2 linked regions of the Homo sapiens genome follow. The protein of the gene in region 1 purifies or fractionates together with the protein of each later gene. This does not show direct contact. Each region holds a gene or a part of one and is shown in the gene's direction. Other genes may lie near its edges.

Region 1 (11,509 bases):
ATTATTTATAGTGACATTCTCTCCCTCGGTGCCCATTCACTCTTCTCTTACTCATTGTCCCAACTGGATATGCACATTCACCCCTAACTTCTCTCTGCTTTATTCATTTTTCAAACACATGTTCTTCTCAACACCCTCACTCAAAGATCAAAGATTGAAGATGTGCTTACATCTTTTCTTCTTTTTCTTTTTCTTTTTTTCCAGGAGTCTCGCTCTGTCACCCAGGCTGGAGTGCAGTGGCACGATCTCGGCTCACTGCAACCTCCGCCTGCCGGGTTCAAGCAATGCTCCTGCCTCAGCCTCCGGAGTGGCTGGGACTACAGGTGCACACCACCATTCCCAGCTAATTTTTTTGTATTTTTAGTAGATACGGGGTTTCACCATGCTGGCCAGGCTGGTCTCAAACTCCTGACCTCATGATCAACCTGCCTCGGCCTCCCAAAATGCAGGGATTACAGGCGTGAGCCACGGCACCTGGACCCCAAGATGTCCTTACATCTATGGACACATGCCCTTGATCTTCTGCATCCTGTGTACTTTCCTTCCCCAAACACCCAGTATACAGGGACTTCTGTGGTCGCTGAGCCTGAAATCCCTGCTTCTTATCCTGATACCCCCCAAGGATGGCAGAAGTTTCTGCAACTATGGCGGTGGGGCAGGATGCAGACCTGGGTATGAATAAGGAGGCCCTGGACATCTGGTTGCACCTGCCTGGAAATGTTCAGCTCACAAAGCTTTCCCTCAATGGCCCAAGAGAGCCAGAGAATGGATTTCCCTGCTGCCCACCTGGACACTGCACAAATAAGTCGTGCGCTGTCCAGAGAGCTTATGTCAGTAGCTGCTGCTTAAGGGGGAAAGCGCTCCTGACACAGGGGAGGGCTTGGCTAAGGGAAGCTGCCCGCTTTTTCCCCCAGCTCAGGGTGGGGGAAAGAATTGAGCTGAATATGCACCTATTCAGAAGGGCAAAGAGCCAAAAATAACCAGGAGCAACAGCATTTCATCTGACAGGCCCAGAAATAGAGCTCATTTTGGAGCATGCCTGGGCTACAAACCGAGTGATTCCAAGACCTTCAGCATCCCATAAAAATACACGGAAAAGCTTTCAGTTTACACAGATGCTTCCTTTTCCTCCTTTACCACAACTTCCCAAGGCAAGGGCTCTGTGGCCCATAGGGAAAGAGTCTGCAGAGTCAGGGATTTGAGGCTCAAAGGATGGGGTCTGAGGATGAGGAGATGAGGCTGGTATCTGATGGGATGTTCTATGGAAGGAAGAAGCAAGAAGTAACTGTTAAACATGGAGGATTTGAAACAAGGAGAAACAGAGACAGGAAATAGATTTAGGGAATGTAATGGCTAGGGGGCCACAAGAAAAATGGAAATACTGCCCATAAAACAATGGCATGCAGGATTTGTCTAGATCCCAGAGGTCACCTTTGGCAGAAAGAAAGACCATGGTTTTCCTATTGGGATGGGGAGTGTGTTGCCTGACAGCAATCTTCTATTTTTGCTTTCCTCTCTTCTATTTCTGCTTTCTTCTCTTTTATTTTGATATAAAAGGCAAATGTCACGGTTCATTCATCTTCATTCTGAATAACTGAAATTACAGGAAAGAGGGAGGGGGAAGAAAGGAGAAGACTGCAGAATTACAGAGAAACCTGAGTGTGGAAATAACCATGTTCTAACAGGAAGAGACTGGGGAGACAACAATGAATAAAAAAAGAAAAGAAGGAAGGGAGGGAGGAAGAAAGATGGAGAGGAAAAAATGAAAAAGGAAGATGTTGGATTCAACTTTATTCAGTGAATATGTCAGAAATGTTCTATGTACAAGGCATGGGGGTACAGAGAAACGGTTAAGAAATAACCCCTGCTTTCGGGGGGCATATAGTCTACTGGAGGAGAACAGGCCAACTAACATACCCAATATAAGGCAGAGTTAGCCAGTGGCCACTTAGGATTACAGGCAATGCCTGCTGGGGGCACAGAGAACCGACCCATTGCGTTTCGACCTGAGGCCATGAGGGAAGATTCCCTAAAACTGGCAGCATTTGCCTCGGCCTCAAAGATTTATGTGGGAGGGTAAGTGGATGGAAGGAACACTCTCTACTCCTGCAGAATGCCTTCCTACCCACCTCCTGTAATCTGGAGGTCATTTGTCTCCGCAGGGGCAGATCTCTTTGCCCCAGACATCCTTAGTATATAGAAATGTGGTTACCAACTGCCGACATGGACAGGGCCACTCCAAAGGTAAGTTTTTACTGATCCACAGCAAAATGCAACATATAAAGACAAGACGGAAATAAAATATTCAGATTAAAGAACAGCTTGTTTTTTGTTTTTTTTTTTTTTAAGACAAGGTCTCACTCTGTCGCCCAGGCTGGAGTGCAGTGGTGTGATTAGACCTCAGTACAGCCTTGACCTCCTGAGCTCAAGCGATCCTCCCATCTCAGCTTCCTGAGTAGCTGGGACTGCAGGCACACACCACCACACCTGACTAATTTTTGTATTTTTAGTAGAGACAGGGTTTCACCATGTTGCCCAGCTGGTCACAAACTTCTGGGCTCAAGTGATCCACCCGTGTTGGCCTCCCAAAGTGCTGAGATTACAAGTATGAGCCATGGCACCCAAACCAGTCTTTTCTTAGGATGTTAGGCCCTTCCTAATTTTTTGATGGCAAAAGGCCTTGTCTTTTTAATGAAATGATACTGACAGAAGATAGTATATGCAGTTGGTTTATAAAAACTATTTTTGCTTGGTAAAGTAATAGTTGACCAAGTGCATTGGTCCCCGAGACGTGACTGATCTTAAACCATTTTGGGCCAGGCATGGTGGCTCACGCCTGTAATCCCAGCACTTTGGGACGCCTAGGTGGGTGGATCACGAGGTCAGGAGTTCAAGACCAACCTGGCCAACATGGTGAAACCCCCATCTCTACTAAAAATACAAAAATTAGCTGGGCATGGTGGCAGGTGCCTGTAATCCCAGCTACTCTAGAGGCTTGAGGCAGGAGAATAGCTTAAACCCAGGGGGTGGAGGTTGCAGTAAGCTGAGATCACGCCACTGCACTCCAGCCTGGGCAACACAGTGAGACTCCGTCTCAAAAAGAAAAAAAAAAGAAAAAAAATTTCAGAGTCTCAGAACATCTCACCTGGAATGCTATGATGTGCCACCTAGGCATGCAGATGCAGTCCTTTCTCCAGCCCCTCCCTCCAGGCCTCTGAAGTCTCCTCCTAGGGGCGGGCCATGATGAGCTCAGGACTCTGTGCCTTTGTCCTTTCCCGTGTTGAGGTGTGGAATTGGTCCCTTTCCAAGGGCATGTGATAAACTGACTCACACCAAGGCAGTAATAAGGGAGGCCAATCTCCCCCTGGGGCCTTCGACTTTTAGTGGAGTATTAAAACTTAATTTAAACTGATGAATTGTAATGGTGAGATTTCAAGCCCTTCCATGGGACAATGGGAAGATATATTTCTTTTTAAATAAAGGGCTTTCTTCTGAAATCAGACCACGCCCTTTCAATGACTGACACAAACTGCTGGAGAGACGCAAAAGTAAGAGCTGATTCTGTCTTCTGGATCAAAACGTCCCACTCCCCCGTGAAAAGAAATCTTGACTTTTTCTCTCCCCCTCTCCAACACAGGATGAAGCAGTTAATCCCACCACCTCTAGCTCAGGATGAGAGAGCAACTCACACATCCCTCTTAGAAGACCAAACTCTGGCCGGTTTTCTGCATGCCTGGTGCTCCTTGCAGAAACAGAGCCTTCCTGCCTACCTCTGGAATCCTGGGGCCTCAGGTGGTGCCCAGTCCACAGTAGGAACACAATAGGAGATGAGTGAGTAGGGGAGAAGTGAGCAGTTGGATATGGCAAGTTAGAAACAGTCCAGCCTCCAGTGGGGCACTCTGCTTACCTACACTTAGGTAAACCCAAATCCTCAAAGCTCACAAGGCCTTGAAAACTCCCAATTCCATGAATCCTGATTACAAACAACCCCGAGGAACCATTTAGCTCCCCGAAGACCAACAGAATCTGTGTACAATGTGGGAGGAGAGAAACTCCGGAGCGTGGCCCAGGAAGACAGGTGGCAACCCTAGAAATGCTGCAATGCCTGTTGAAGCCCCTTCCCCCTGAACTGGCCGACAATTTTCCTTCCATATACATTAAAAGCATAGTCTGTATTTTGACCTGATGGAAAAGATATAGACAGGATCTGGGACAAAGCCACCAAATCTTTTGTTCCCTTGGACACTCGATAGAATAAATGTTTTCCACGTCACACAGAAGAATGTTAAGTGCTTTGTTTCTGCAGAAGTGGAACAGAGATAGTGGGAGCATCTGTCAAAACCCCCAAAATGCTTTAATGTGGTGGCAGCTGGCTGGGAGGAGCAGGAGCCCAGTTCCCTAAAAGCCAATAGTTCTGGAAATGGAGGAGGGCTGTTTGAACCAGCGCGTTAACATCACCCAGGAGCTTGTTAGAAAGGTACATTCTCAAGTCCCTCCCAGGACCAACTGAGTCAGAAATTCTAGGGCTGAAGTCCAGGAATCTGTGTTTTAACAATCCCTCCAGGTAATTCTGAAGTTTGAGAACCGGTGGAATAAGGCCAGGGAACTCACACAAGGCCACAGCTCTTAGGTGACCTAAAAAAAAGTGGACGACAGCTGAGGAGCCACCATGCCTGGTGTGGCCAGGCCTGTACTGAAGCAGCTGAGGGCGCGTCCACGCCCGTCAAACCATCCCGGGCACCCCGTCTCACCACCAGCCTCTCCCCGACGTCTGTTGTGACTTGACCTATGCTCGTGGCACAGGGAAAGGGCTGTGGCCTCTCAGGCTCCCAGGCTATTATTAGTTCCAATCCGCACAAATCTACCAGTGCTAAAGGGAAGCTTCTGCGAACTTTGGAAGGTGGATTAACTGTTTCAGAGCAGCAGCTGCGGGCCCAGATAGTTGTCGGAGCCGCTAGACACAGCCAAGCGCTTCCCTGAAAGCCAAGGCCGGCGGCGAGCTGGTGGTCCCGCCGGCCGGAGGCCCCTCCCCGCCAGGCCGCAGAACCCGGGTCGGAGAGCAGCCAGTCTCAACCTGCGTCCCCAAGGCCGAGGATGTGTCCTGGTTTTTTAAAAAGCTGTTTGCGCACTTCCAGGGCCTCACCCCTTTCATTTGGGGCTCCAGTATTACTGTATTGACCTAATTAATTCATTTTTTTCTCAGTCCAAAGTGGAAGCCGGAGCACAGGGATGCAAATCAAATACAAACCCGTCCTGGGTGCCAATACTCTGGACAATTAAAACAAAGAGCGCAGTGGTGGCGGTGGCGGCGGCACCACACAAAACCCTCGGGAAACATCCAGAACGTGCCGCGAACCAGCCGGCAGGGTGGGGCGCAGCCCGGCTGCAAACATGCCAGCAAGGAGGCAGTCCCAACCCCGCAGGTGGACAGGTGGAGGTTGGCAGGGGTCAAAATCCATCCTGAAGGCCTGGGAGCCGGGCAGCTGCGCGGCACAACTCCAGGGGGCACACTCGCCCTGCGCCCTGCGGGAATGGCGCCCCGGCCAAAAAAGCAACCAGACAAAAACCCATTGCACGGGCGGGAACTGGTCTGTGCGACCCGCAAAAGGGGTGGGTGGGAGAGGAAGAATGCGGAAGCGAGGAAGAGGATGGGAAGGGAGAAAGAGGAAAGGGAGGAAAAGGAGAAAGTGAAAAAGAGAGGGGGTTTGGGAGCGCGAGGGGAGAAGGAAGAGGGAGCCGGAGGGAGAGGAGGGGGATCGCAGAGAGCAGGAGCGCGGAAGGGGGGCGGGGGAGGAGCAGAGAGAAAGGGAAAGGGGGGTGCGCCGGGGCCCAGCGACCCGGGCGGGGGGTGGCGGCGGCCAAGGGGCGGGACCCGGGTCGGTGCCCACCTGCGTGGGCGCCCGCTGCTCCGAGGGGTGGAAGCCCGGGGGCCAGAGGGAGCGGCCGGGAGGAGGGCTGGGCAGGGAGGCAGAGGGGAGGGAGGGGACGGGGACGGGGAGGCGGGGAGGAGCCGGCGCTCGGCTGGGGCTGCGGGGGCGGCGACGGCGGGAGCGGCAGTGGCGGCGGCGGCGGGTCCGGAGGTGGCGGCAGGTGGCCCCGCGCGCGGCGGCCGGCCCGGCCGGGGGCGGGCGGGAAGGTGGCGCCTCGGGCGGGGGCCGGTCCCTGCACCAGGTGACCTGTTCCGGCCCGGATCCGGGCGGCCTCGCCATGCAGCGGCGCGGCGCGGGGCTCGGGTGGCCGCGGCAGCAGCAGCAGCAACCCCCGCCGCTCGCGGTCGGCCCCCGGGCCGCAGCCATGGTCCCGAGTGGCGGCGTCCCCCAGGGCCTCGGCGGCCGCTCTGCCTGCGCGCTGCTCCTGCTCTGCTACCTGGTGAGCGCCGGACCCTGCCCGGGTCTTCCCCTCCGCGCGGGGCCCCGGGGACGCGGGTGGGGGCGGCCGGGGACACCCGCCACGCGGGGCGGGGACGCCGCTGCTAGTTTTCTCTCTTCCTCGTCGCTGCGCCCCGGGCGTTCCCGGCACCTGGGATAGGTACCCCGGGCGTGGAGAGGGGCGCTTGGACCGGACTTGCCAAGCTGCTCTCTCGCTCGTGCTCATTCCTTTCCCTCCTGGACTCTCTCTAGACCCGGGTCGGGTTACCCTCGAGACCCCTTCTTGTCCTCGACTCCACCCGGGAGCCTCGCCGCCCGGAGTTCGCTCCCCGCCCCGCCGCGCGCAGTCTCCAGCACCCCCCAACCCCCCACCCCTCCTGGGCTTCCCTCTCAATCTTCTCGCAGCTCCTTTCCTTCCCGTGCCCAACTTCGCCTCTTACTCTCGGCGCCCGCCACCCGCGTCGACCCTCCTTTTAGTTTCCACCGGGTCCTCCCGGCCCGGACAGTTTTCTGCCAACGCACCTCGCATCTCCAGCGCTCTTCAACTCCTCCTTGGTCACTCCAGCCAAGTTGCGGATGCCGGAAAGAAATCTAGTTCTCTGTAACACGCTTACCGCCAGAGTGGTGACTTTAGCTGCGTCTTGAACATTGTCATTTCAGAGAATATGTTTGGCTCATGCATGTCAGTTTGCAATTTGCACACTTCTTGGCTTCTGTTTTAGTCATCAACTAAAGGGCAGTAACCTATTTTTCAAAACCCATTTATTTTAAATACCAGAGTAGCTGAGACCCCTCAGAACAAAGTGGGGAGAAATTTTCTCAGTTCCTTTGAGGGCTTGCTTGCTTCTGTTTTGAGTTCTCCTAAACAATAGTAAATTTACAGAAGGCGACACCCTTCCTGCCCAGAGTAACTTATGTTCCACAATCCTGCAGAAACCTTGGGTTATCTCGCCATATATTACTGTAAATAAATGAAATGGAAAATGCTGAATCATGAAACTGATGTAATAGGAAATTCACAGAATGCCAAAAAAAAAAAAAAAAAGAGCAGTGTCATTGTCCAGAATTCATTTCACTTATGTGGCATTGTCATTATTTGGAGTCTTTCTTTTTGGAAGCTAAAAACTGCTTAGGAGATACTGGCAGAAATTAGAATTTGATTCTGAAGAAATTTGCCACTCAGCCCGTTTCTTTTAACGTTTTTTACTTCTTGAATGTTTCATTTCTTGAAGCAAGAAGGTGTAAAAATGCAAATTATAATTCTGCCTGTGCATCTACCTGTTGAGCAATCCGTGCTTTTACTCATATTTCAGAATTAGCCAATATCAAATTGTGTGGTTGGGCTTACTTCATATTTTCATAAGAAGTTGTCAGTTAACATGAATGATATTTTTTTGCCCAAGAGATATTATTATTTAATATTTATGCCACAAGGTTACAACACACAGGCTCATAAATAAAACTGCCATAACAAATGACAAGATTTCAGTTTAAACAGATGATCCCTGTACACAGGGCCCTGCTGGCTACCCACAGAAGCAGAAGTGATGTAGTAGAGTGTTGCGTGAAACATTCATATACAAATGGGCCGGGCCGAAAAGTTCCACGTGGACATCTCAAGACCTGGCAAGGAGGGGGACTACTTCTGGACAGTTCAGGAAGTCAGAGTCAGGAGAGCAAAGCCTAAGGGCCTAAGTGGACTCTGGAAACAGAGACAGATAATGATGGAGCAAGTATTCCTGTGAAAGTTCTGTGTACACCAAGGGGGATTAAGAGAACAGAGGGAAAAATGATGCCATGGATAGACTCAAGTGAGATAGTGAAGGAGTGAGGAAGGGCTCCGGAAAGAGTAATTTTAGAAAATACTGTGATGTGGAAAATAACTAGAGCATGGATGAATGTCTTGGCAGATGGGGAAGGAATGGATTTGGGGACCTCATGGTGGGGGGAAATGTCAGTGCTTCCTGCCTTTGTATGCTTCCTTCAGATGGACTTCTGATACGCTTACTGTACAAGACAGACTTTGATAAACAAGAGAGCCATTTTGCAAAGGACACAAAAGGCCGACTTAAAAGGTAGTCTCCACATTTTGTTCTGAAGATCTAGCCGTTTACTAGGGATGTTGCTCTTGGGTCTACACTACCCAAGATACTACTGAAGGCAAGGCTTCTTGATCTTGGAGAAGCTTGGTGTGAGAATTGGGGAAAATGTAAATATCCATATGAAACACTTGAAAAACATAAAACAATAGAGAGAAAACGCAAATGTATAATTGTGTGCATTTTGCTCAATCAAGGAATGCTACCTGGAGGAAGTGGTTGGTCAGGGGGATGGGGCTGGGCAGGTGCAGGGTAGAGATGGAGCAGAATAGCTGGGCAGGATCCCAGGAATATGTAGACTCTAGAGGAGGAAAGGTCTTTCATAATTTGAAAGCCTACATGGTAATAACGATAGCTTACATTGTGCTATACATTGTGCTAAATCGTTTATAGGCATTATCCAGTATTTATCTTAGCAACAGCCCTCTGAGGTAGGAGCTACTATAATCTCCATTTAGATGAGATAACAGAGACTCAGAGAGGTTAAGTTAGTTGCCCCAGGCCATACAGTCTGAGATTGAAACCCAAATCTGTCTCCCTCCAGAGCCCCAGCTCTAAACCACACTAGCTTATTGTCTTCTGGATTTTGCTGCTTGTAACTCATTCTTCATCGATGTACGGGCCATTAGCAGAGCTCTAGCAATTAGCAGCTACTGTGCAATTGGCCAGGATGTGAGGTCATGTCTAAAGTAATCTAAAATATACAAAGCAGGAAGCGCAGGCCACAGAATAGAAGCAGGATGTTAAAGTGGGGAAGAAAGGTAAAGCCAGAAAATATTTGCCATCGTTAATGAAGAGATAAAGGTTTGGGGTTTTTATGTAGTCCAGAGGCAGCTGGTAGAGTTTAGCATTTGAGTTTGGATGAATGTGCATACAAGTGTACAGCAAATGTGCCTTGGAATGCATTCCAAAGCCAAATTGCCTATGATTTGGGGACCAGTTCCTGTTTTGTGTTATCTTCACCTATTTGCCTGTTCACAAGGGCTGGAGGTTGAGAGCAGCTTCTGAATAGATGCCTTTAAGCACCTGCCCTCACAGGGAGCATGCTTCCTGGAGTCAGGGTCCTGAGGAGTGGGTGCCTTCCGTCTCCATAGGCTGGGACGGAGTAACCTTCAGTATCAGCTCAAAAAGAGTACTGTGTCTGTAGCTAGGATACTGCCAAAGCATGAATAATTGTGATGAGGGCTGAAAGATAAGTCACGGAACGATGCCAAACAGATTTCTGAAAAGATGATCCCTGGTTCCAGTGGCTGCCAGAAAATTCTGAGGTCACCAAAGGCCAAGATGCAGAGAGCCTCCTCAGAGAGGGAGAGGGCCTCGAAAGCAAAAGATAATGAAATTGCTTCCACTGAGGTCGCGGGTGCTGAGTACTGTGCCCCACGCAGAACTTTCCCTGCCCAACGGGCCTTCTTGCTATTTTCTTACACCATTAACTCTTACCTTCTTCCAACTTGGCTAGAACCAGCCTGAGGCTGCCCCAGCTCTCTATCTGTGATAATGGCACTTCCAGAAAACAATTTTGTTCGTTCTAAGCTCTGGTCTCCAAAGTATAATATTTTCTTATATGAAAAGATAAATCTCAGGATGGCCAGTATTGATGTCAGCTGTCAGTTGAAATGTTCGGAGTGGATAGCTGCACTTGTTAGACAATCAGACTGAGGACAAAGAAGTAAGAGGACATTAACAGCACAGAGGCTGGGCGCGGTGTCTTACGCCTGTAATCACAGCACTTTGGGAGGCCGAAGCAGGCGGATCACGAGGTCAGGAGATCGAGACCATCCTGGCCAACATGGTGAAACCCCATCTCTACTAATAATACAAAAATTAGCTGGGTGTGGTGGCGTGCACCTATAATCCCAGCTACTTGGGAGGCTGAGACAGGAGAATTGCTTGAACCCAGGAGGGAGAGGTTACAGTGAGCTGAGATCGCGCCGCTGCACTCCAGCCTGGCGACAGAGTGAGACTCTGTCTCAAAACAAACAAACAAACAAACAAACAAAAAAATCAAAAAAAACAAAAACAAAACAACAACAACAAAAAAACAGAACAGATACATGTGGGACAGTTAGCAGACAGCGGCTGTGACAGAGCCTTGTACAGGATTCCCTGTAAGTGGCCACACACCCTCGGTCATCCATCTAAGAGTATTCATTAACCCCTCACTATGTGTGCAATGCAGAGCATGAGAAGATCAAAACGAGGTAAAGAGATCTGCAGTTATCTAGCTTGAGGGAGAGGTATTATGAATATTTGAAAATAGAGATCATCCCCAAACCTCACATCAACCAATAGCTTCCATATTCATCCTGACTGGAGCTCCTAAAATTTCCCAAGCCATGGTGTTGGCCTCTTGCCTTCTATTTCTTCTGGCTGCCTGTTGGCAAAAGCGTCAGAGCTAGAGGACAGGTAGGAGAGAATAACCCAGGCAATTCGCTGGAAACATGGATAGACTGGAGTAGACCGTAAATAGCCTAAAGTGAATTCAGTTACCCTGTTTAATGGCTCATGCCATTCCCCTGAGAAAGGAGCCGAGGGGCAGGAGGCGTGTTCGGCCCATGAGGAATGGCTGATGGGATTCTGCCTTGGCAGGCCTTGTTTCCAGTCTCTACCTGGAGAAGGGCTTAGTTATACTGGGGAGCTGGCTGAGTCTGGTGTTTGTGTGTTTGTGGTTAAGGCAATATCTGTCTCCTCCAAACTCAAGGCATGCCGGCATAATGGCATTTTAGCCCCAACCCTTTCAAGATGGGAATAAGGAAAGTCATGAGATTCCCCAACCCTGTAGCCAGAAAGCGGTGACAGGTGTATAAAGGCAAGGACGTGAGTTGAGGGCATCATCTTTGGGTGTTGTTAGAAGACAAGAGGCACACCTTCCCTGGCTTTGGAGTCAGCCAATGTGGATTTGAATTTTGGTTCTGCTTTTTGGTAGCTGGTTGACCTTGGGCAAGTTACTTACCCTCTCTGAAGGCATTCCATTGCCTCAGCTGTAACAGTGGGATGCTGTCTCCCTCTGTGGGTTGTTGTGAGGATTGGGTTAGAAGTGAG
Region 2 (11,398 bases), on another chromosome or scaffold:
TGTGGCCATGGTTGACATATTCTGAGATGAAAATCTAAACTATTGATTGCACAAAGACATAGGTCAGACTAAGAAGGAGATTGGTGTGAGACAGTAAGGGAACTGTTCCTACAGAGAAGGAGTGTCTTCTTGAAGCTACATACCTGTTTTACGTGCTTCTTCCAACTTTCGGCTCTCTACTGCCATTGATTAGGGAGGAGCCAGGATTATTTTAACTCCCTCACTCACCACCATAATTCCAGCTGGAGAGAAAGTGTAGGATTTGACGAGCTAAGAAAGAGGAGGAAAAGAATGAAACTTTGATTTATCTGACTATCCTCTCCCTCATTCTTTCCTACTCTGAAATACTCCATGCCCTCCCCAGCAGGATTGGACGTTGTAGAGTAGAAAGCCTCCATTACATTTCCTGCCCCTGCCTCTTAAGACTTAGCCCATTTAGCTCTGCCCAGTTCCTCTGAGACCCCACTCCCTCAGGTGTCCACTCCTGGGTTCCTTTGGCTCACCTCTCCAGCCAGCTAGCTGCCCAACCCCCACTTCATCATTGATCATTTCTGGCACTGGAGAGAAAATATAAAAAATAAGGCCTGCTTTTCTTTTTTTTTTTTCTTTTTTTCTTTTTTTTTTTGGAGGCAAGAGTCTCACTCTTGTCACCCAGGCTGGAGTGCAGAGGCACAATCTTGGCTTACTGCAACCTCCACCTCCGGGGTTCAAGCAATTCTCCTGCCTCAGCCTCCTGAGTAGCTGGGATTACAGGTGCCCGCCACCGTGCCCGGCTAATTTTTGTATTTTTAGTAGAGATGGGGTTTCGCCATGTTAGCCAGGCCGATCTTGAGCTCCTGACCTCAGGTGATCCGCCCGCCTCGGCCTCTCAAAGTGCTGGGATACAGGTGTGAGGCACTGTGCCCGGCCAAGGCCTGCTTTTCTTCAAGCTTTTTCACTTTTCCAGGCTCTGGCATCTGCTTTGAGGTTCACCCTAAGTGTCATTTAAGGGGAGAAGGAAAGGAGAGAGAGAAAGAGAGAGAAAAAAAAGCATAAGGCCTGCAGGCAATTTTTGCTACTCTGATTCTAAATTAACAACACGTAAATGATATGCAGCTAGCATAAACATATGTGAATCAAGAGGATAATCAATTTGAGTGACTAGGCTTATTTTGTTTCAGTAACTTTAATGTTCCTCAACCTCATCTCCCAGGCCTTCCCCTAGCCCCAAATTCCTGTAGGTTTACAAGAAGGAAGCAGTCTCAGGCTGGGAGGAGGGTGGAGAAAAGACAAGATTTCTAACTAGTTTAATTTATTTTATTTTATTTTATTTTATTTTATTTTATTTTATTTTATTTTATTTTATTTTTGAGATGGAGTTTCGCTCTGTCACCCAGGCTGTAGTGCAGTGTCACCATCTCAGCTCACTGCAACCCCCTGCCTCCCAGGTTCAAGCAATTCTCCCACCTCAGCCTCCCGAGCAGCTGTGACTACAGGCACGTGCCAACACACCTGGCTAATTTTTGTACTTTCAATACAGACAGCGTTTTGCCATGTTAGCCAGGATGGTCTCGATCTCCTGACCTCAAGTAATCTGCCCGCCTCAGCCTCTCAAAGTGCTGGGATTACAGGCGTGAGCCACCGCGCCTGGCCCCTAACTAGTTTAATTTCTCCCTGTTTCTCTCCCTGATAAAGAGTGGGAGGGGAGCAAGGAGATTGAAGGGAGATGTTTTCCAAAGGGCAGGATTTGTGGTTTTTTATTATTTATACCCACAGTATTAGTTAAATGTCTATCTGTGCTTGCCTCAATGTGCCTCCAGTGCTGATAGAGAACAGGTTAAACAGGTCCGGTGTTCACATCTAAAATGACCTGGAGAGGACTGGGCACGGTGGCTCATGCCTGTAATCCCAGCACTTTGGGAGGCCAAGGTGGGAGGATCACCTGAGGTCGGAAGTTCAAGACCAGCCTGACCAACATGGAGAAACTCCATCTCTACTAAAAAATACAAAATTAGCTGGGCATGGTGTTGCATGCCTGTAATCCCAGCTACTCGGGAGGCTGAGGCAGGAGAATCACTTGAACCCAGGAGGCAGAGGTTGCAGTGAGCCGAGGTCGCACCATTGCACTCCAACCTAGGCAACAAGAGCAAAACTCTGTCTCAAAAAAATAAAAATAAATAAATAAAACCACTTGGATGGGAATAGACATAAAACTTTAGGTAGGTGAATGTACAGGAAGTATTGTTATGTAAATTAATAATCAGCATTTTCATATTTCATAGAAATAGCAGGCAAGAGAGTACCTCTGGGTTTAGGTAGTTTCTGGGGAAAAAAAATGAACTGAGGAAAAGTTGCTGTCTCAATGCTAGCTGTCAAGAGATGCTTACTGGGTCCAGGCACCGTGGCTCATGCCTGTAATCCCAGTCCTTTGGCAGGCTGAGGAGGGCGGATTGCTTGGGCCCCCAGGAGTTAAGACCAGCCTAGGCAACAAAGCAAGACCCTGTCTCAGTTTAATTAAAAGAAATTTGATATCTTTATTAATTTTTTTTAAAGAGAAGCTTACTGGAAGAACTTGTGGGGAGTGCTTTTTGTGCCCCTAATCTGAAGTTATTTATCAAAACCAGTCTCTGATTCCAGCCCCCACCACCTACATTTCCCCTCCCAGCTTACAGGAAACCCCTCCCAAGGCCTTTATACTGTGGTTTGGGATTGTGTAAGGTTCAGTAGAGCCCTTTGAGGTGGAAGACTTCCCCTTCCTCACCAGCATTTCACCTTTAGGGGCATGAAACTGACTCTCTGTGCCTCCTCCATTCTTCACCCCAAGTACTATGTGACTTAATCTTTTTATCCTTGGGTGAGGCAGAGAGAAGGTATCCCTAAACATACAAGCACTGTGTATTCTTAGTATGTTGTGTGAAGGGGCAGGGTGTGGGGTAGGGCAGAGGAATTATCTCTGTCATGGCTATGAGGGGGTTACTGATGTGATGCCTATTAGAGTAAGCTAAAGATCATCATATTAATAACCATTAGCGTAGATTTAACATTTCTTTCTCCACCTCTTATCCTTCTTTCTCCTTTGTGCTCTCCCTTTCTCTCTGTCTTTCCTCCCTTCCCTGTCATGATCTGTTTCAGGGAAGCTGACTCCACCCATGTGTTCAATCCCACCAGTCTTCCCTCCCAAGTCTGGAAGCCCCACGACCTCTTGGTCTCATCTGGTCACAGCAAGTTAGAGGTGGAAAGAGCTCAGCACGGGGCCCTTCTGTTTACACATATACTGCCCATAGCCAGGAGTTACTGCACAAACACTAGCCAGCCTTCTACACTACATTCCTTTTCCAAGACTTTTCTGGGTTAGTTTGCTTTCCAGCCCACTGATTTCCTTCTTATTGGACAGGTCACTCTTTTGCATCCCAAGCCTGGCTTAGGCAAGTCCCTGAGGTTAGTAAACACCTTCAGTGCCCCTCAGCCAAGTCCCTTTTGACCATGGAATACCATCAGCCTGAGGATCCAGCCCCTGGTAAGGCCGGGACTGCAGAAGCAGTCATCCCTGAAAACCATGAGGTTCTGGCAGGCCCAGATGAGCACCCTCAGGACACAGATGCAAGAGATGCTGATGGGGAGGCTAGAGAACGGGAGCCAGCAGACCAAGCTTTGCTGCCTAGCCAGTGTGGGGACAACCTTGAGTCCCCTCTGCCTGAAGCTAGCTCAGCTCCACCGGGGCCAACCCTTGGGACACTGCCTGAAGTAGAGACAATAAGGGCATGCTCCATGCCCCAGGAGCTTCCTCAGTCCCCCAGGACCCGACAGCCTGAGCCAGATTTCTACTGTGTCAAGTGGATCCCTTGGAAAGGAGAACAGACACCCATCATCACCCAGAGCACTAACGGCCCTTGCCCTCTCCTTGCCATCATGAACATCCTCTTTCTTCAGTGGAAGGTAAGAGAACATGCAGTTAGGGGTGCAAAAAATATCAGGGAGTACTCTTCCCTGACTTACTTCCTTGATCATCCTGATGTCCTCAAACTAGTCAAAACTTTTCAGATTGTTCTCCCTATTTCTCCAGCTTGAGCAAATGAGATAAGATGTTCCTAAAAACAAAGAAAAAAAAAAAAGAGGAAGATCTGTCCTACCCCTGTATCTCCTACTCCCTAGCAAATGCACATGCCTTGCAAGATTTCACATTCATTCCCTTGTGCCAGTTGCAAGCCTTTTTTCCTACCCCACCCTACTACTGGAGCTCCCCCTTGCCTTTCCATGGGTTCTTCCTTCAGTGCTCTTTGGAGGAAAGCACACACGTGATCACCCCTTCTGCCTCCAGGTGAAGCTCCCCCCGCAGAAGGAAGTGATCACATCGGATGAGCTCATGGCCCATCTTGGTGAGTGACTGGGCGTTGAAGAGGAATTACCCAAGGGGCTCCAGAGCTATCCACTCAGCCAGAAATCCAGACTATTCAGGGATCTCCATTTGGGGGTTCTGATACAGCAGGGAGGGTAAGGGTCTATGGGGCTTCTCTGCAAGGCTGGAGAATGAAAAGCAAAGGCGTCGGGAGTCCTGGGTTGTAACACCAATTCTGCCCTTAGCTTTTGTATCTGACCCTGGGTGGGCCGTTCACCTTTATGAGGCTGTCGCCTCCTCTGAGAAATGAAGAGTCTGGATTAGACTCTAAGTATTTTCCAGCTCTGAAAATCTGTGTTCTGTGACATTACCCGCATTCTCCAGGAGAAGAGGAAACTTAGCTTTTGGGATGATTGGTGGGGTAAGCTGATAAGGGGCCCTGTCTTGTAGGAAACTGCCTCCTGTCCATCAAGCCCCAGGAGAAGTCAGAGGGACTTCAGCTTAATTTTCAGCAGGTGAGGCAAAAGGTCTGCAGGCATAGGGGTTTGCAGGTTTGTAAGGGGACATCTTGTAATACTAAGATAAGCTTTTGTTGCTTCTTCAGAGGTTTCCTTGAACCATGATTTCATTCTGCAGGAGTCAGAGGAGAGTTTATCTTTGTCCTAGAAAATATGTTCATTGGCCGGGTGCTCACACCTGTAATCCCAGCACTTTGAGATGCCAAAGCGGGAGGATCACTTGAGGCCAGGAGTTCGAGGCCAGCCTGGGCAACATAATAATACCCCTGTCTCTAAAAAAAACCATTTTTTTTTTCAAGAATTAGCCAGGTATGGCGGTGCGTGCCTGTAGTCCCAGCTACTCAGGAGGCTGAGGTGGGAGGGTCACTTGAAACCAAGAGTTTGAGGCTGCAGTGAGCTAGGATCACACCACTGCACTCCAGCCTGGATGAAAGAATTAGACTTAGACTCTCAAAGAAAAACAATGTTCATTTATATAAGATAGAGAAGGGTTGAGGCAAGGGAGAAATGGAGTGGCTTGTAAGAGAATCAGGGAAGAAGAGCAGCAAGGTTAATTTTTAATTTCTGCAGGTGGGAGTGGAGTGGTGGGAGAGAAGGCTAGAATCTCCATCATTTTTTTTTCTACCCCCAGAATGTGGATGATGCAATGACAGTGCTGCCTAAACTGGCCACAGGTCTGGATGTCAATGTGCGATTCACAGGCGTCTCTGATTTTGAGTATACACCCGAGTGCAGTGTCTTTGACCTGCTAGGCATACCTCTGTACCATGGCTGGCTTGTTGATCCACAGGTGAGGGTGGGAGGGCCCACTGGGACCTTATCCAGCTCAAGCTGACATGAGAGAGGCAAATTTTTGTCGGGTAGAGGTTAGGGAGTTAGGGGTTAGATTGGCTTGGGAGGGAAATAGTGTTTAGAGACTGGACCCAGTACAGAATTCCTTGAATTTTAATCTATTTTGGGGGTAACATGCAAATACAAGCAAACTACATGCAAATAGGTCAGTTCTTTAGACATCAAAAATTCAGGAAGCAGATGGGTTTGGTGGCACATGCCTGTATTCCCAGCTACTTGGGAGGAGTTCGAGGCCAGTCTGGGCAACATAGCAACCCTATGATGAATGGTTCCTGAAATTTTTTTCTTTTTTGAGAGACCAAAAAAAAAAAGTGTTTAGGAACCATTCATCACAGGGTTGTAGTCCTTGTGAGCTTTGTTCATTTCCTTCCTTAAAAAAGAAAAAAAAATCCCAATTTTTTTGGTATCCCACATCCCACTACCCAAGCAGAGTCCTGAGGCTGTGCGTGCAGTTGGGAAACTGAGTTACAACCAGCTGGTGGAGAGGATCATCACCTGCAAACACTCCAGTGACACCAACCTCGTGACAGAAGGTGACATTCCTCCCCTTCTCATGGATAGTATGTGGAGGGAATGACAGCTACTTAGGCTTATTTTTTATTGGGTGTCATCTCCTACCACATCCCACTAGATATAAGCTTCACAAGAAGGAGCTTGGGGAATTTCTGTTTAGTTCATTGAGGTATCCCCAGTGCCTGGCACAAGGTAGCTGCTCTATTATAAGTATTTGTTAAGTGAATGAATACAGCCAGGTTTCAAGAAAGGGACGTCAGAAGGTGGGACTGACCCCCCGGGGCTTTTGACAGGGGCTCTCTGGATGGTCCTTCCTGTTGTGGACCTTGAATTTAAGCCAAGTTTCCCCCGACTCGTCCCTTTCTGGCAGGCCTGATTGCAGAGCAGTTCCTGGAGACCACCGCGGCCCAGCTGACCTACCACGGACTGTGTGAGCTGACAGCAGCTGCTAAGGAGGGTGAACTTAGCGTCTTTTTCCGAAACAACCACTTTAGCACCATGACTAAGCATAAGGTAATGCGAGTTTGGGGGTGGCGTGCTGCGGTGCTGTCATTTCCTGGTGCCTTTTTCTCGTGGGTCCAGCTGGGATCAGCTAGATTAAGCCGTGGTAGCAAGTGACCCCTCAAATCCCTGTGGTTTACCACAACAAAGGTTCATTTCCCGCTCCTGGTGCGTGTCCACTGTGGACTGGCTACGGTTCTGTCCCACACCATCTTCACTCTGGGACCCAGCTGACAAAAGATCCTTTATCTGGAATATATGTGGGAACAGAGAGAGAGAGGGGCACTGTGCACTCATGCTTAGAGCTTCTGTTTGGAAATGACACATGTCATTTCTGCTCACATCTTCTGGCCAGAGCAAGCCATAAGGGATAAGCCTGCCGTCGATGGGACAGGAAAGTATGATCCTCCCCTAGGAGGGGGCAGTGGAATTTTTAAACAATGCTGGTCTTCAAAAGTTAGAAACTGCCAAAGCTCTCTAGGATTTGAGCAGCAGAGGGAGGGGTCTCTGGTTCTCAAAGGATTTATCCTAAGAGCCATCAGGCAAGCCCAGAGAACAATGGGAAATGGGGGGAGCAGGGTCTTATGTGGCATCTCAGCCCCAACGACTCCATGCCACGCTTAGCCAGAATGACCACCGTGCTCACACCCAACTGGACATACACTCAGACATCCCTTTCTTCCCCCCAAGGCCACACATATTTGTAAAAGGTCCGCATGCTCAGGGTCCGGGTGCGGTGGCTCATGCCTGTAATCCCAGCACTTTGGGAGGCCGAGGCGGGCAGATCATGAGGTCAGGAGATCGAGGCCATCCTGGCTAACACGGTGAAACCCCGTCTCTACTAAAAAAATACCAAACATTAGCCAGGCATGGTGGCGGGTGCCTGTAGTCCCAGCTACTTGGGAGGCTGAGGCAGGAGAATGGTGTGAACCTGGGAGGCAGAGCTTGCGGTGAGCAGAGATTGTGCCACTGCACTCCAGCCTGGATGACAGAGCGAGACTCCATCTCCAAGAAAAAAAAAGTCCACATGCTCATACCGAGATTTCTGGCAGTGAACTGCCTCCGTATCAACTGTCCCCCCAATGAGCTCTGTTCTTTTCTTTGTAGAGTCACTTATACCTACTGGTCACTGACCAGGGCTTTCTACAGGAGGAGCAAGTCGTATGGGAGAGCCTGCACAATGTGGATGGAGACAGCTGCTTTTGTGACTCTGACTTTCACCTGAGTCATTCCCTGGGCAAGGGGCCTGGAGCAGAAGGTGGGAGTGGCTCCCCAGAAACGCAGCTGCAGGTAGACCAGGTGTGTAGGGCACTTAGGAAAAGTGCAGAGAGCACATGTGCCTCAGAGAGCTTTTTACTGCATACATTTTAACTGCTAGAGGCCATGTGAACCCATGCCTCTCTCTCTGGGTTACCTCAGACCGTCTCCTCACTTGGTGTGTATTCTCTGGCACCACAGATAATGCATTTGGCTGTGTGTGCTGCTCTGTGGGGAGAAAGAGCTAGAGAATTTGAGGGATGTGGGAAAACTGATTTGGAAACCTTGCCTGAATAGCCACGGCTCTGGGCCTCAGCCCACTGCACAACTCTTGTTCTCCCCAGGACTACCTGATTGCTCTGTCCCTGCAGCAGCAACAGCCACGAGGCCCGCTGGGGCTTACCGACTTGGAGCTGGCCCAGCAGCTTCAGCAAGAGGAGTATCAACAGCAGCAGGCAGCGCAGCCAGTGCGGATGCGGACGCGGGTCCTGTCACTGCAGGTGGGCTGCTGCCTGGGCGCCCACACTCCCGGTTTCCACCTCATGCTTTGCCGGGTCCAGAACACCTGTTATTCCTGCACTGGTCTCTTCAAGGTTTCTTCTCTCAGAGTCCTTCCCCTGCCTGTCCCTCTCCCCTGGAGCCCCTTCCTGTCTTCCTCTCCCTACTCTCTGTCCCAATCCTGACACCCCTTCTTCTAGAATCTCTTCTTGTGCTCTTCCAAGGAAGTTCAGTGACCAATTGTTAAATCCGATACAGGGGAGAGGAGCCACATCTGGACGCCCAGCCGGGGAGCGTCGGCAGAGGCCGAAGCACGAGTCAGACTGCATTCTGCTGTAGCTCTGCCCCAGTGCCAGGCTGGCCTGCCCCTTCTTCCAGAGGCTATGGCTAGTTGGCTTGCTCCCCCGCCTCCACCCCTGAGATGTGCTGGATAACTTATTTATGGACTGTTGGGGATGAGAGCAGGCAACAAATGCCAAGGTCAGACTTGGTAATGTCCTTGACCTCACGTGCTGCTGCCTTCTCTGCCTCCCATCCAGGGCAACACTAGGATTGGTGGGTTTCTGGTTCTCAACTCCCGGTCCCTGAATAGTCACACGTATGTACAGACTGAGGCTCTGGGGTGAGGTCCCTATCCAGAATGCATCTCTTCTGCTTCCCATCCCTGCTGCCTGGATGCTCCTGATCACCTAGGCAGGCCTGTCTCCAGTTGTTTCAGAGCTTAATTTGGGTTTCTATCTCTTATTTGTAATGCCTTCCTGGGGTTTGGAAATAAAACTTCTGGCCGGGCACGGTGGCTCACTCCTGTAATCTCAACAATTTGAGAGGCCAAGGTGGGCGGATCACCTGAGGTTAGGAGTTCGAGACCAGCCTGCCCAAAAAGGTGAAACCCCGTCTCTACTAAAAATACAAGAAATTAGCTGGGCGTCATGGTGGGCGCCTGTAATCCCAGCTACTCGGGAGGCTGAGGCAGGAGAATCACTTGAACCTGGGAGGTGAAAGTTGCAGTGAGCCGAGATCGCACCATTGCACTCCAGCCTGGGCGACAAGAGCAAAACTGTCTAAAAAAAAAAAAAACCTTCTTTCCTGAGATCTGTTGTTTGCCTTACCCTGAAGCAATAGGGTTAAGTATTTGACCCAATTGAAGAATGCAAAAAGCGGGAGGTGGGTCAGAGGCAGGAAGGTGGTTACCTGTCATTTCTTTTTTTCTTTTTTTTTTTTTTTTGAGATGGAGCCTCGCTGTATTGCCCAGGCTGGAGTGCAGTGGTGCAATCTGAGCTCACTGCAACCTCCGCCTCCCGGATTCAAGCGATTCTCCTACCTCAGCCTCCTGAGTAGCTGGGACTACAGGCATGCGCCACTGCGCCCAGCTAATTTTTGTATTTTTAGTAGAGACGGTTTCGCCACTTTGGTCAGGCTAGTCTTGAATTCCTGACCTCAAGTAATCCGCCTGCCTTGGCCTCCCGAAGTGCTGGAATTACAGGCGTGAGCCACTGCGCCCAGCTACCTGTCATTTCTAATATAGCCTGCAGGGGGAACCAAAGCCTGACTTTTTGTTTTTGTTTCTGTTTTTGTTTTTGTTTTCTATGGGAAATAGTGCTCTCCTGGGAGGTGGGTTTCCAAATCTCTGCTTGGACACATGAATTTGAGGGTTGTGCTCTCCACTAACCCAAGAATTCCCATGCTGGGGAGGGTAGCTTGGCCCTCCGCTTGCTTCCCAGTTCATACAGATGGTCCTTTGCTCCCTCTATTTCTCACCTTGTTCTAATGCCTGTTTCTCAATTATTTTGCCTGAAGTTTCCTGGAGAATGAGGGTGAGGGGAGACCTGGAGTGGGAGACCTGGGTGTGGATTACTGTAGCACTAAGGCAAAACAGGATTCCTGCGGAATAGCCAAGTGCACATCAAAGGCACTTCCAACTCCAGTGCCTCTTCCCGGTCCATGTCCTGCTCCACCCAACCTTCAATCAGGGAACACAAACAACAGCGAAGTTTGCCAAAAGAATTCGAGTATCAGTGAGATGTTCTGGCCAGGGTACAGGAGGGATGAGTGAGGCAGAAACTATCAAAGAAAACTCATTTCCCCACACCCAAGAAGGAGCTGGATGACCCAGGTACAGATATAATTTTGAGATGGGAAAATTAAGGGATTTTAAAGAAACAGTTCCAGCCTCAACAAGAAGCTAGAGAATGTGGTGCTCAGTGAGGGGTTATCCTACTTGGAGGCCCAGCTGGTCTCCCAGGTTCAGCCAAACACGGAAATCTCAGATCCTCGGATGTCATGTGGGGTGGGGCAGGGAAGTCTCACATGTCTTCAGCCCTGCACAAGGCCAGGAGGGCTGACTGGCAATCCCCTTTCACTGCATCCTGCAGACAAGGGAATTCAGTGTTAGAAAGATCCACCACCACTATGGCCCAAGTGCTCTCTCCCCTCCTTTGGGCTGGTCCATCACAGTTCATCTGGGAGGGAAGGGTCCTCCCGGGAGCTCAGAGTCCTGCACTACATTAACCAAAGACTCCTGGGTTTTCTTTTTTAAGATGGAGTCTTGCCCTGTCACCCAGGTGGGAGTGCAGTGGCACGATCTTGGCTCACTGCAACCTCTGCCTTCTGGGTTCAAGCGACTCTCCTGCCTCAGCCTCCTGAGTAGCTGGGATTACAGGTGCACGCCACCATGCCTGGCTAATTTTTGTATTTTTAGTAGAGACGGGGTTTCACCATGTTGGTCAGGGTGGTCTTGAACTCCTGACCTCGTGATCCGCCCACCTCAGCCTCTCAAAGTGCTGGGATTACAGGCGTGAGCCACTGTGCCTGGCTAACTACTGGGTTTTCTATGGGGCAAGAATATGCTCAGCTGTGTGCAGGGAGTGAGGGTGGAGGTGAGGAGTGAAGGCCTGAGGCTCCAGGCTAAGAAGTAGCCAAGTTTCACCTGGAGAGAAGAGTAGAG

The links.
Region 2: the proteins of SEL1L3 (region 1) and MINDY1 purify together in Homo sapiens (affinity purification with mass spectrometry; 2 studies listed by BioGRID and IntAct, with this or other methods). This does not show direct contact.

What each region holds. Positions count from the first base shown.
Region 1 is NC_000004.12:25,857,535-25,869,043, reverse strand, and holds the start of SEL1L3 (protein sel-1 homolog 3), read left to right. Parts: upstream 1-6,055; 5' UTR 6,056-6,207; coding exon 6,208-6,369; intron 6,370-6,890; exon of another isoform or gene 6,891-7,917; intron 7,918-11,509.
Region 2 is NC_000001.11:150,994,682-151,006,079, reverse strand, and holds the end of MINDY1 (ubiquitin carboxyl-terminal hydrolase MINDY-1), read left to right. Parts: intron 1-3,111; exon of another isoform or gene 3,112-3,373; coding exon of another isoform or gene 3,374-3,462; coding exon 3,463-3,915; intron 3,916-4,250; exon of another isoform or gene 4,251-4,297; coding exon 4,298-4,355; intron 4,356-4,765; coding exon 4,766-4,830; intron 4,831-5,464; coding exon 5,465-5,623; intron 5,624-6,112; coding exon of another isoform or gene 6,113-6,115; coding exon 6,116-6,218; intron 6,219-6,568; coding exon 6,569-6,711; intron 6,712-7,806; coding exon 7,807-7,998; intron 7,999-8,300; coding exon 8,301-8,456; intron 8,457-8,712; coding exon 8,713-8,793; 3' UTR 8,794-9,245; downstream 9,246-11,398. Other genes in the region: ANXA9 (annexin A9), read right to left, coding at 11,267-11,398. UniProt on the Homo sapiens protein: Hydrolase that can specifically remove 'Lys-48'-linked conjugated ubiquitin from proteins. Has exodeubiquitinase activity and has a preference for long polyubiquitin chains. May play a regulatory role at the level of protein turnover.